Linked DNA regions of Homo sapiens. The protein of the gene in region 1 interacts with the protein of each later gene in a pairwise test. Each region holds a gene or a part of one and is shown on either strand. Other genes may lie near its edges.

What was found.
Region 2: the proteins of SETD7 (region 1) and STEAP3 interact in a two-hybrid assay, tested with the Homo sapiens proteins (one large-scale study listed by BioGRID and IntAct).

Annotation. Positions count from the first base shown.
Region 1 is NC_000004.12:139,534,577-139,540,084, forward strand, and holds part of SETD7 (histone-lysine N-methyltransferase SETD7), read right to left. Parts: intron 1-5,508. UniProt on the Homo sapiens protein: Histone methyltransferase that specifically monomethylates 'Lys-4' of histone H3. H3 'Lys-4' methylation represents a specific tag for epigenetic transcriptional activation.
Region 2 is NC_000002.12:119,240,834-119,245,337, reverse strand, and holds part of STEAP3 (metalloreductase STEAP3), read right to left. Parts: intron 917-4,504; exon of another isoform or gene 1-916.

The sequences.
Region 1 (5,508 bases):
ATGAGGTTTTGTCATGTTACGTATGCTGGTCTCGAACTCCTGGGCTCAAGGGATCCACCCAACTCGGCCTCCCAGCCACAACTAGTCAACATTTACAGTGTGCCTTCTCAGTAGCAAGCATTGTGTGAGGCTCTAGAGCGGATAAGGAACAAAACAAACACAATGGTATAGGAGAGACTGGCAAGACACACTGTGAACTGGAGCAGATGGGACGCAAAGCGGGCCATCAGGACTTAGGTGGCTGCACCTGACTCTGTCTGGTAAAGTCTTGACTTATTTCAATGAACAACTGTGAATGATCTATAATTATTAAATGAAAAGCAGATTCTAAATAATGATAGCTTCTGGTTAAAAGGTAATTATACTATTTGTAGTATCCCAAGGAGATAAATAGTTTTCTTTCAGTTTTATTTGTACTATCAATGACAAATAGGCTTCCTAAATTCATGAAGAGAATAAAGTGCACTTTAGCATAGCTCTTGCATAAATAATCAAAATTCTAAAACAGTGAGGTTGGAAGTAATGAGATTCAACTGTCATTAGACTCCCACAATTAAAAAAAAAATCATTGGTGAAGGGTACTAATCAAGTGACATAATGATGTAATTTATGTAGTGCAAGAAACTATTCATTTATCTTCATTTTTAGGATTGCCAGGTATAATACAGGATTCCCAGCTAAGTTTGAATTTCAGATAAACAACAAATAATTTTTTAGTTTATGAATGTCCCAAATAGTGAATGGGATATAATTATACTTACTTTTTTTGTTGAGCAAATTCCAATTTAACTGGGTGTCCTGGATTTAACTAGATTTTTATTTGCTCATCCTGGCAACCCTATTGACTTTGGACTCTCAGCAGCATTCAAAATGTTCCTGTGTGAGTTTGGGTAGAATATTACTCCCTGACAGACTAGTCTGCCAATATTTCTCAGGGTTATGATCAAATCTACAAGAAACAGGTCTTGCAAATCAGACAAAAAATAATATGGACTTGCAGACATTTCCCCCAACTGTATTCAGTGGCTTGTCCTAACCTCCCTTACCCATGGAGCCCATCATCCCATCTATCAGAGTACGAAGAACAAACTGCTATTTCCCTCTTAGCCCAACTGACTCAAAGTACACAAATGCAAACTCTTAAGGCATTGGAAAGCAAATCTTACTGCGTTATTTTTTCAGCCATCTGCTTGAGGCCACAGCTTAGCTTTCTTGGCAACTTTTAATAGTAAGTTAGATGAAATCTGATGACAAAAGAGGGCATATTACACACATAAACTGGGTTCTCCAGGGTGATAAAAGTGATTTTTTAAAATCCTCTGTCATTGAGGAAATAAAATATACGTTTCTTAGACTGGCATTCAAGGCACTACCTTTCTCTCTAACTGTTCTTTCCAGAGGAGGCTGGCAAACTATGGCCTGCTGACTGCTTTTGTAAATAAAGTTTTACTGGAACAAAGCCATGCATGTTCCTTTCTACATCATCTATGGCTGCTTTCATACTACAACAGCAGTGTTGAATTGCTGCAGCAGAGACCGTATGTGGCCCACGGAGCCTCGATTTTACTCTCACCACATACAGAAAAAGTTTGCTAATCCCTGCTCTAAAAAGCTCTGCTCATATCGAAAGTTTACTCACTGACCTTTATTTAGCTTAGCTTCCACACTATATTTTTCCTTGCTTTCCATAATACATATGGGAGCAAACTTTTAAAATCCTTAAGGCCAGCCGGGGGAAAAAAAGTTATGATTTTTTTTCTTTTCTTTTTTCTTCATTGAAAACAAAAATAATCATGGACTAATAATGAATACTCTGAAATCTCTGGCATTTTTCTATCAAAAAAGAAAGAAGCCAATGGGTGCAGTGGCTCATGACTGTAATCCCAGCACTTTGGGAGGCCAAGGTAGGTGGATCGCTTGAGGCCAGGAGTTTAAGACTACCCTGGCCAACATGGTGAAACCCCAGCTCTACTAAAAATACAAAAATTAGCCAGGGGTGGTAGCACATGCTTGTAATCACAGCTACTCAGGAGGGTGAGGTGCAAGAATCACTTGAACCCAGGAGGCAGAGGTTGCAGTGAGCTGAAATTGTGCCACTGCACTCCAGCCTGGGTGACAGCGAGACTCTGTCTTAAAAAAAAAATAGACTGGGCATGGTGGCTCATGCCTGTAATCCCAGCCCTTTGGAGGCCGAGGCAGGAGGATCACCTGAGGTCAGGAATTTGAAACTAGCCTGGCCAACATGGTGAAACCCTGTCTCCACTAAAAATACAAAAATTAGCCGGACATGGTGGCAGGCACCTGTAACCACAGCTACTCGAAAGGCTGAGGCACGAGAATTGCTTGAGCCCAAGAGGCAGAGGTTGCAGCGAGCCGAGATCGCACCACTGCAATCTTTTTTATTTTTTATTTTTTTGAGATGGAGTTTCACTCTTGTTGCCCAGGCTGGAGTGCAACGGCACAATCTTGGCTCACTGCAACCTCTGCCTCCTAGGTTCAAGTGATTCTCCTGCCTCAGCCTCCCAAATAGCCGGGATTACAGGCACGCGCCAACACGCCCAGCTAATTTTGTATTTTTAGTAGAGACGGGGTTTCTTCATGTTGGTCAGGCTGTTCTCGAACTCCTGACCTCAAGTGATCTGCCCACCTCGGCCTCCCAAAGTGCTGGGATTACAGGTGTGAGCCACCGCGCCTGGCTGCACCACTGCCCTCTAACCTGGGCAACAGAGCGAGACTTGTATCCATTAAAATGTTAATATCGGGTCATATTTGAAAAGTGGGTACATAGAAATAGCCTTCTAATGTTTCTTGGTGAAATTGGATTGAGAGCTGGGTTTCAGAGCAAGTCTGCTGGTCACTGTGTTAAACAGAGCCTACTCATCATCCGCGGGGAACCTTGTTTTCCTACAAAGTAAATCTATCCTGATCTTGGCAGCCCTGCCATGCACATTATTCATCAGAGCCTAGGCATGTACTATTACAGAACACTCCATGTCTTTATCGATGTTAAATTTACGTGTCCTATTTCTCTAACTAGATTGTAAGCCCTTTATGGGAACAAATTAGGAAATATGCATCCACGTATCCCCCCAACATATAAACTTCATGTTGATAATTCCTAAGCAAAAGAATAGAAATGGAAACTGGGATCATTTTGCATTGAGAAGAGAAGATTGAGAAGGAACATAACAGTGTTATTCAAGTGCAGGGAGCATTCTTATATGAATTCGATATGCATACAGGCTGTACGTGAGGAAAGTTTCTTAAACTTCCTATGCTTCATTTCTTCATTTGTAAACTGGACTACTCAGAGTGTTGTTATAACGGTTAAATGGGTTAATATATATCAAATGCTTAGAATATGGTCTGGCACATAGTGATTGCTTAAATAAAGAGCAGCTATTATTATTAAACATGCATATTCATGTGTATGATGGCAAGCTTTCTACTAAAAAACTGGGTTTAAAAAGCATCATCAAAAAAAAGCATCATCAAAGAAACAGTTATGAAACACTGAAATAAAGAAATTTATAAAACTGCATTAAATCTATTTTTAAAGAACAAGCAAGAAAAATTCCTATCTGCAGTAATTTATGAGTGATCCAATTGACTGGAAGAAAATAAATACCTCTAAAAAAAAGCAATATGTGTTCATTGTAAAACAAACACATAAAAAGCAATTCAAGCAATACTAAGATGCAGAAAGTAGAAATTCTCAGTCCTCTTCCCCAATTTCACATACAGTATTTAAGACTTTTTCATTTCTTTTTTTTAAGATGAAGTCTTGCTGTCGCCTAGGCTGGAATACAGTGGTGCAATCTCGGCTTGCTGCAACCTCCACCTCCTGGGTTCAAGCGATTCTCCTGCCTCAGCCTCCTGAGTAGCTGGGATTACAGGTGTGTGCCACCAAACCTGGTTAATGTTTGTATTTTTAGTAGAGATGCCTTTCACCATGTTGGCTAAGCTGGTCTCGAACTCCTGACCTCAAGTGATCCACCCGCCTCAGCCTGTGCTAGGATTACAGGTGTGAGCCACCGCTCCTGGCCACTCTTTTCATTTCTATACCACGCATTTTCCTACCTTCTGTTTTTGTTATTTTAATAAAAATGGGATCATACTATACATAATGTTCTTAACATGCTTAACTTGTATTTTCTTAAAGTTCCTTTCAACATCTTGGCAAATTCTTTAGTATGTTAAGAAATTACAAAAATGGTCTTGCAATTGTTTGATTTTCCTGGTACCATCATCTGAATCAAACTGGAAAATGTTGAGGAAATTAAAACATAAATTTTAATTAAATTTCTTTTTCTGCACATAGATCAATTTTTCCTGTTTTATCCAACCTCTTGTACTTAAGAGTTAAATTTCGAGAAATCAGTTAAGAAATCTAACTTACAAAGAAATGGATAAATTTTATAGTTGTTTTCCTAGACTTACATATCTGCATTTTATTCAGATATTGCTGTATTTTCATTAAAAATTCCTGTTAGTGTTTGAATATAGAAAACTGTTCTTAGAGACTTAACAGTTTTGGCTTTTCTTCATGGTTCTGGGGTCTAGGTTTTGGACCTTCCGCCTCCTGGGGCCTAAATTCTGTTCCCTTCCTTCCACTGTGTTCCCTTCCTTTTGTCAGCCATAGCAATACAATAACCGAGAGGAAATTTTAAAAATGAATAATCACTCCTTAAACTCCCATCTCTAACCAAATTGAATTGTGACCCTTAGTATATACATTATTTTAGGAATTATTTTATATGACAATATATATTATCTTTTGAAACACTGCAAACTAAGCAAAGAGCAGCAACAAGGAGATGCAACCCATCTGCTAGAACTATTTCCAGCCAGAAACTTCAACTTCTCCCAAGGTGTTGGAGCAAGTTTGATGGAGAACTCTAATGCTTCCATATAATATAACATACTGTCTATCTTTGAAGGTTTTCTTTTTCTATCCTTTAAGAAAAGATCTATGAGTCTACTATAGATCTAATTATTACAAAGCCTCAAAGTAACAGTAAAATATTTGAAGAGTGAATAATGAAATTTAGTTTTGCTTTCTAAAAACAAACCTCAAGAAAACTTTCTGCTACGGACTAAATGTTTGTGTCTCCCCAAATTCCTGTGTTGAACTCCTAACACCCAATATGATGGTATTAAGAGGTGGGGCCTTTGGGAGGTAATTTGGTCCCAAGGGCAGAGCCCTCTTGAATGGGATTAATGCCCTTATAAAAAGATATTAGAAAGCTTGTTTTCTCTCCCTTTACTTTCCACCATGTGAGGATATCAGGAGAAGATGGACATCTACAAACCAGGAAGTGGGCCCTCGACAGACACAAAGTGTACTGCTGCCCTGATCTTGGACTTCACACCCTCCAGAACTGTGAGAAATAAATTTCAGTTGTCTAAGCCACCCAGTCTATGGAATTTGTTGTAGCAGCCCAAACTAAGACACTCTCCTAATAATTATTAATAATAATAGTAACAACAACAATGATAAAATAATCC
Region 2 (4,504 bases), on another chromosome or scaffold:
CAAGCTGAACACAACACAGCCCCTTCCCTGGGGAGAGCACAGACTCAGGAAGAGCAGGGATGACTTCTGCCCTCCACCCTTTGTCCCTCCTGCTGAATGATTTCCTCGGGAAAAACTGGCAGAGTGAGAGTGCTGGGAAAGGGAACTCTGGAATTTCCATGACCAATGTGATGCAGTGCCATACTTCTTTTCAAAAGGATTAGGCAATGGACAGTGTCACTAGCCAGGAGTGACCATCTAACCCCAACCTCACCATCGCTGGGTGTTTGATGACCAGGAAGGGTGAGCATGTCCCTATGCTTGTCTACATTTTGCATCTTGGAGCAGTTCTTCTTATGCTCTCCCTGAAGCATGGTGAACAGCTTGAGGGCAGGACCTCATCTCATCTGACCTTGGACCTCACTGTGTATCATAGCCTGGCACGGAGGCAGTGCTCAGTGTTTGCTGAATGAATGAATGAATGAACACCAAACCTTGATCTCTGAGGGCAGGACTGAGAGACAAGTGAATGGGCCCCTAAGATAGAGTGGGTGCCCTGTGATCTTCTTTGCTGAGCCCAAGATATGAGTGGATGTGGAGGAAACCCTGAACTCGGGCCATCGGTCTACAGTAAACTTGGATGGAAAAATTATTATATATTAATTGTCACCAACTTCTAACTAAAATTTGCTATTTCCTTTAAGTATGAAGGTAGGCAACATAATTTTTCATTAATACTGACCAAGATCATATCATAAATTTACCTGTAAATAATTTATCCTAATACCATTTAAATTGAGCACAAATTTAAAACCATGCTAGCCAGGTGCAGTGGCTCACACCTGTAATCTTAGCACTTCAGGAGGTCAAGGCAGGAGAATCGCTTGAGGTCAGGAGTTCAAGACCAGCCTGGGCCACACAGGGAGGTCCCATCTCTAAAAAAATAAAAAAAAAATTAGCCAGGCACAGTGGCACACGCCTGTCGTCCCAGCTACTCAGGACATTGAGGCAGGAGGATCGCTTGAGCCCAGGAGTTGAAGACTGAAGTGATCGCACCACTGAACTCCAGTTTGGGTGACAGAGCAAGACTATCTCAAAATAATAATAATAATAATAATAATAATAATAATAATAATAATAAAAGTAAAAATAAAATTATGGTAGACATTAGATCTGCCACTAGAGCTTGTCATTTAATGTGCTAATAAAGAAGCATGCCTAATGCTACTGTAGTCTTTTTTAAAAAATATTTTCGCTGTGTTTCCATATAATATATTTCATTTGTAACCCTAAGCTATTTTGTCTGGTGCATGTAAGAACATTATTCTGAGCAGAAGTCCACAAGCTTCACCAGCCTACAGTTCCACAGGGCTTAAGATCCCCTGCCCTGAAGCAGCAGAGCAGCTGGGGTGGCTTTCAACACCCTCCATGGGCGTCTGCCTCTTCCTACTTTTCCACAACACTCTCCTGGAACCTCTGGACACCTGACCAGGTGAGGGAGTGGATCCAGGGACTGACATAAAGATGGGGCAGGGGAACCAGGAGGCTGGGCCCGGCTCTGCTATGAAGCAGCTGTGTGTCTTCAGACAAGTCTGTGTGCCTCCCTGGGCCCCAGCTTCCATCTTTGTCAATGGAGATCACAATCTCTGCTCTCAGATGACAAATCATGCAATCTTAAGAGGTTTTTGAAACTGTGATTTTTCCTTTTATAAGGCAGCAGCAGCAGCAGCAGTTCCTATTAATGGATGCCTACCATACACCCATTGCTGCTGTCAGGCCTTTCCTCGGGTGATGGGCCTCTGGTCCTCACAAGAACCCCAGGAAGTAGATTCAGTTATCATTCCCACTTTACAGAGGAGGGAACTGAGGCTCAGGGAGGCTCAGGAACTTGTTTCAGGCAGCACAAATAATTGAGGGGAGGAAGAGCAGGAGGCAGGTCTGTCTGCCTCGGCAGTCAGAGCCTCACTCCGTCTTACTGCCCAGACAGAGAACAATGAGCTTTCCAGAGATGTCCCAGAGAGCTGCATAGCTGGGACCACACTGGCTGGGACAAGAGGCCAGGTGGGTGGAAGGGGGTGCATTCTCAATGTCAAGAGTCAGGGGACATGTGTTCCTGTCCTGCCTCTGCCAGCATGGGAAACTTCCTTAGCCTCTTGCTCATCTTTAACATGGTTTTGAAACATGGCCCTGCCTGTCACAGGATAACAGGGATTGGCTGAGCTGAGACTCTGAGGGGTTGCTTTTGTGGGGATCATGCTTTCCGAGTCCACAGATGGGGGTGGCACTCCTGCACAGACATGCAGGCACCCGCCAAGACACTCACGCCAGGCACAGCCACCCTGTGAATAGGAGACAGTATTTTCTGCCTGGTTCTGGGAGCGTTTCCTGGGTGGTGGGCTACATTTTGTAGGTGACAACGGGCCTCCTGACCCATCCTATAGTGAGTCCACGGCAGGCGGGTCTGCACCAGGTCCCTACTCAAGGCTGCTCGGTCCAGGAGCCGGGCTCTGGAGCCAGTCCGCCTGGATTCTGGTCCTGACTCTGCCTTATGTTAACTGTGTGACCATGGACCTATCTGTGCCTCAGTTTTCTCAGCTATAAAAGGGAGACCATGGCAGCACTTCCCTTATGGGCAGGTTGTAGGAGTAAATAAGTCAATTGTGTAAAGCACTTAGAACAGTGCTGAGCACATCATAAGCACCCAGCAAACGGCATTCAGTAATCACTAAGCAAACACTGGCTGCCAACAGAAATGAAGCTCCGTGCCAGCAGTAGGGCCCAGGTGGAGGGAGGGCAGAAGACCCTGCAGGCACCCCTTCAGCCCCGGGGAAGGAGGATGAAGAGCTGGGTGACAGTTATGTCAGCCCAGGAGCCTTGCAGATGGCCTCAGGGCTCGCAGGCCAGCATCTGCAATTTGGGCCGAGGTGAATTCAAATCCCTCTTCTCCTGTGGTCGGGAGGGCCAAGTCTCCCCTTGTGGTCAGTCAAGGCTGGGACAGATACACCCAGGCCTGTCCCCAACCACAGGGAGACACAAGCCCCCGGGGAGTTTTGCCCTGATGGGGAGGAAGAGTAGCCAGCCTGAGGCCCCCAGACCATCTTTCCAACATTTGCTGATGATTTGGATGATCCTAAGTAGGAACCCTCTGGACAGAAGCCTCTCCTCTGTCTCTGCCCTCTCCCCGCTGCCTGCCATCTCCTGAGTGACTTTGTGCTGAACACTCCTAAGCATATAAGGATGAGTGAGAAGCGGTCCCCACCCTGAGGGCTTACAATCTAGTGTGGGTTGGGGGAAAGGGGGCTTGAATAAGACCCATCGCCAATGACTGGACATAGGGCAGCTAGAGACAGAGCTCAGGAATGGCACAGGTATGGCCCAGGCTCTTGCCCAGGGGGCAGCCGAAGGGGAAGCCAGGACGGCTTCACGCAGACATGCATCTGAGGATCCCTGAAAAACCTCGAATGATTTACCTCGAAACAAAACTGAACCAGCCCAAAGTGAAGCAAGGCGAGAAGATCCAGATTTTGAGTCCTATTTTTGTTGAACCCCAGACCTAATCACAGGTGGGAAGGGATTGCCAGGGCTGGGCCTTGAGGGTGTTGCTCAGAACCTGACTTGGCATCTGCTCCCTTCCAGGGAGCTGATATGGAGGCCGCTGCAGCCGAGGGGAGCTGGTCCCACGTCTGCCCCTAACTGGCGCTGGGACATAGGAGGTCCCTGGGCCTCTCTGGGTGGCTTCTCTAACAGGAGCTGCTGCACCAGCTCAGCTCCAAGCCCCTTTCATCCCCAGCAGTCTAGGGTGCTATGAAAAGTCCTAGACTTATGGTCCTAAGGGTCCCTGCTTTTCAGCGGTAGGATAAATGCAAACTAAACGTTAAGCACCTCCAAAGCTTCTCTTGCCACCAAAATGCAGTCTGCAACAGGAAAATGCCAGGTTGTAATGCTGCCTTGTACTGCTCCCTAGGCGGCCTCTTCCTTGACCTTTCTGATGTAGGGACGGAGCCACTTGGCTGGGAGGGGTCAGGCAGGTGGTTAAAGGCACGGGCTGTGGGTGGGGCTGCTGGGGAGAAATCATGGCCTCACATGCCAGTAGCTGGGTGCCTTTGGGTGAGTTACATAGCTCCTCTGTGCCTTAGTTCCCTCACCTTTAAAACGGGAACACTAATTATACCTCTCTAAAGACTGTTTGAGGATGAAATGAGTTAATATGTGTAAAAGCTCAGAGCTCATTTCTGACTGGTTGTGTGTGCACTTGTGTTTCCTAATCTTGTATGCATGTGTGTGTGTGTGTGCACGTGTCCTATTCTTGTGTGCATGTGTGTTGTGTGTACTCTTCTCTAACTTCTTCATGGACAGTGGCCACGTTCAATTCTTCTGCCCCCTCCTGATGCTCAGCATGAACCCTCCTGCTGAAGGCTGGCAGGGGTTGGGGGCAGGACAGGTGGTACATGTCTTGGAAGTCCCAGAGGCCTGTCCCTGCGGCCTGAGGTGAGGGTGTGACTAACCCTGTCTGGGCCCTGGCTCC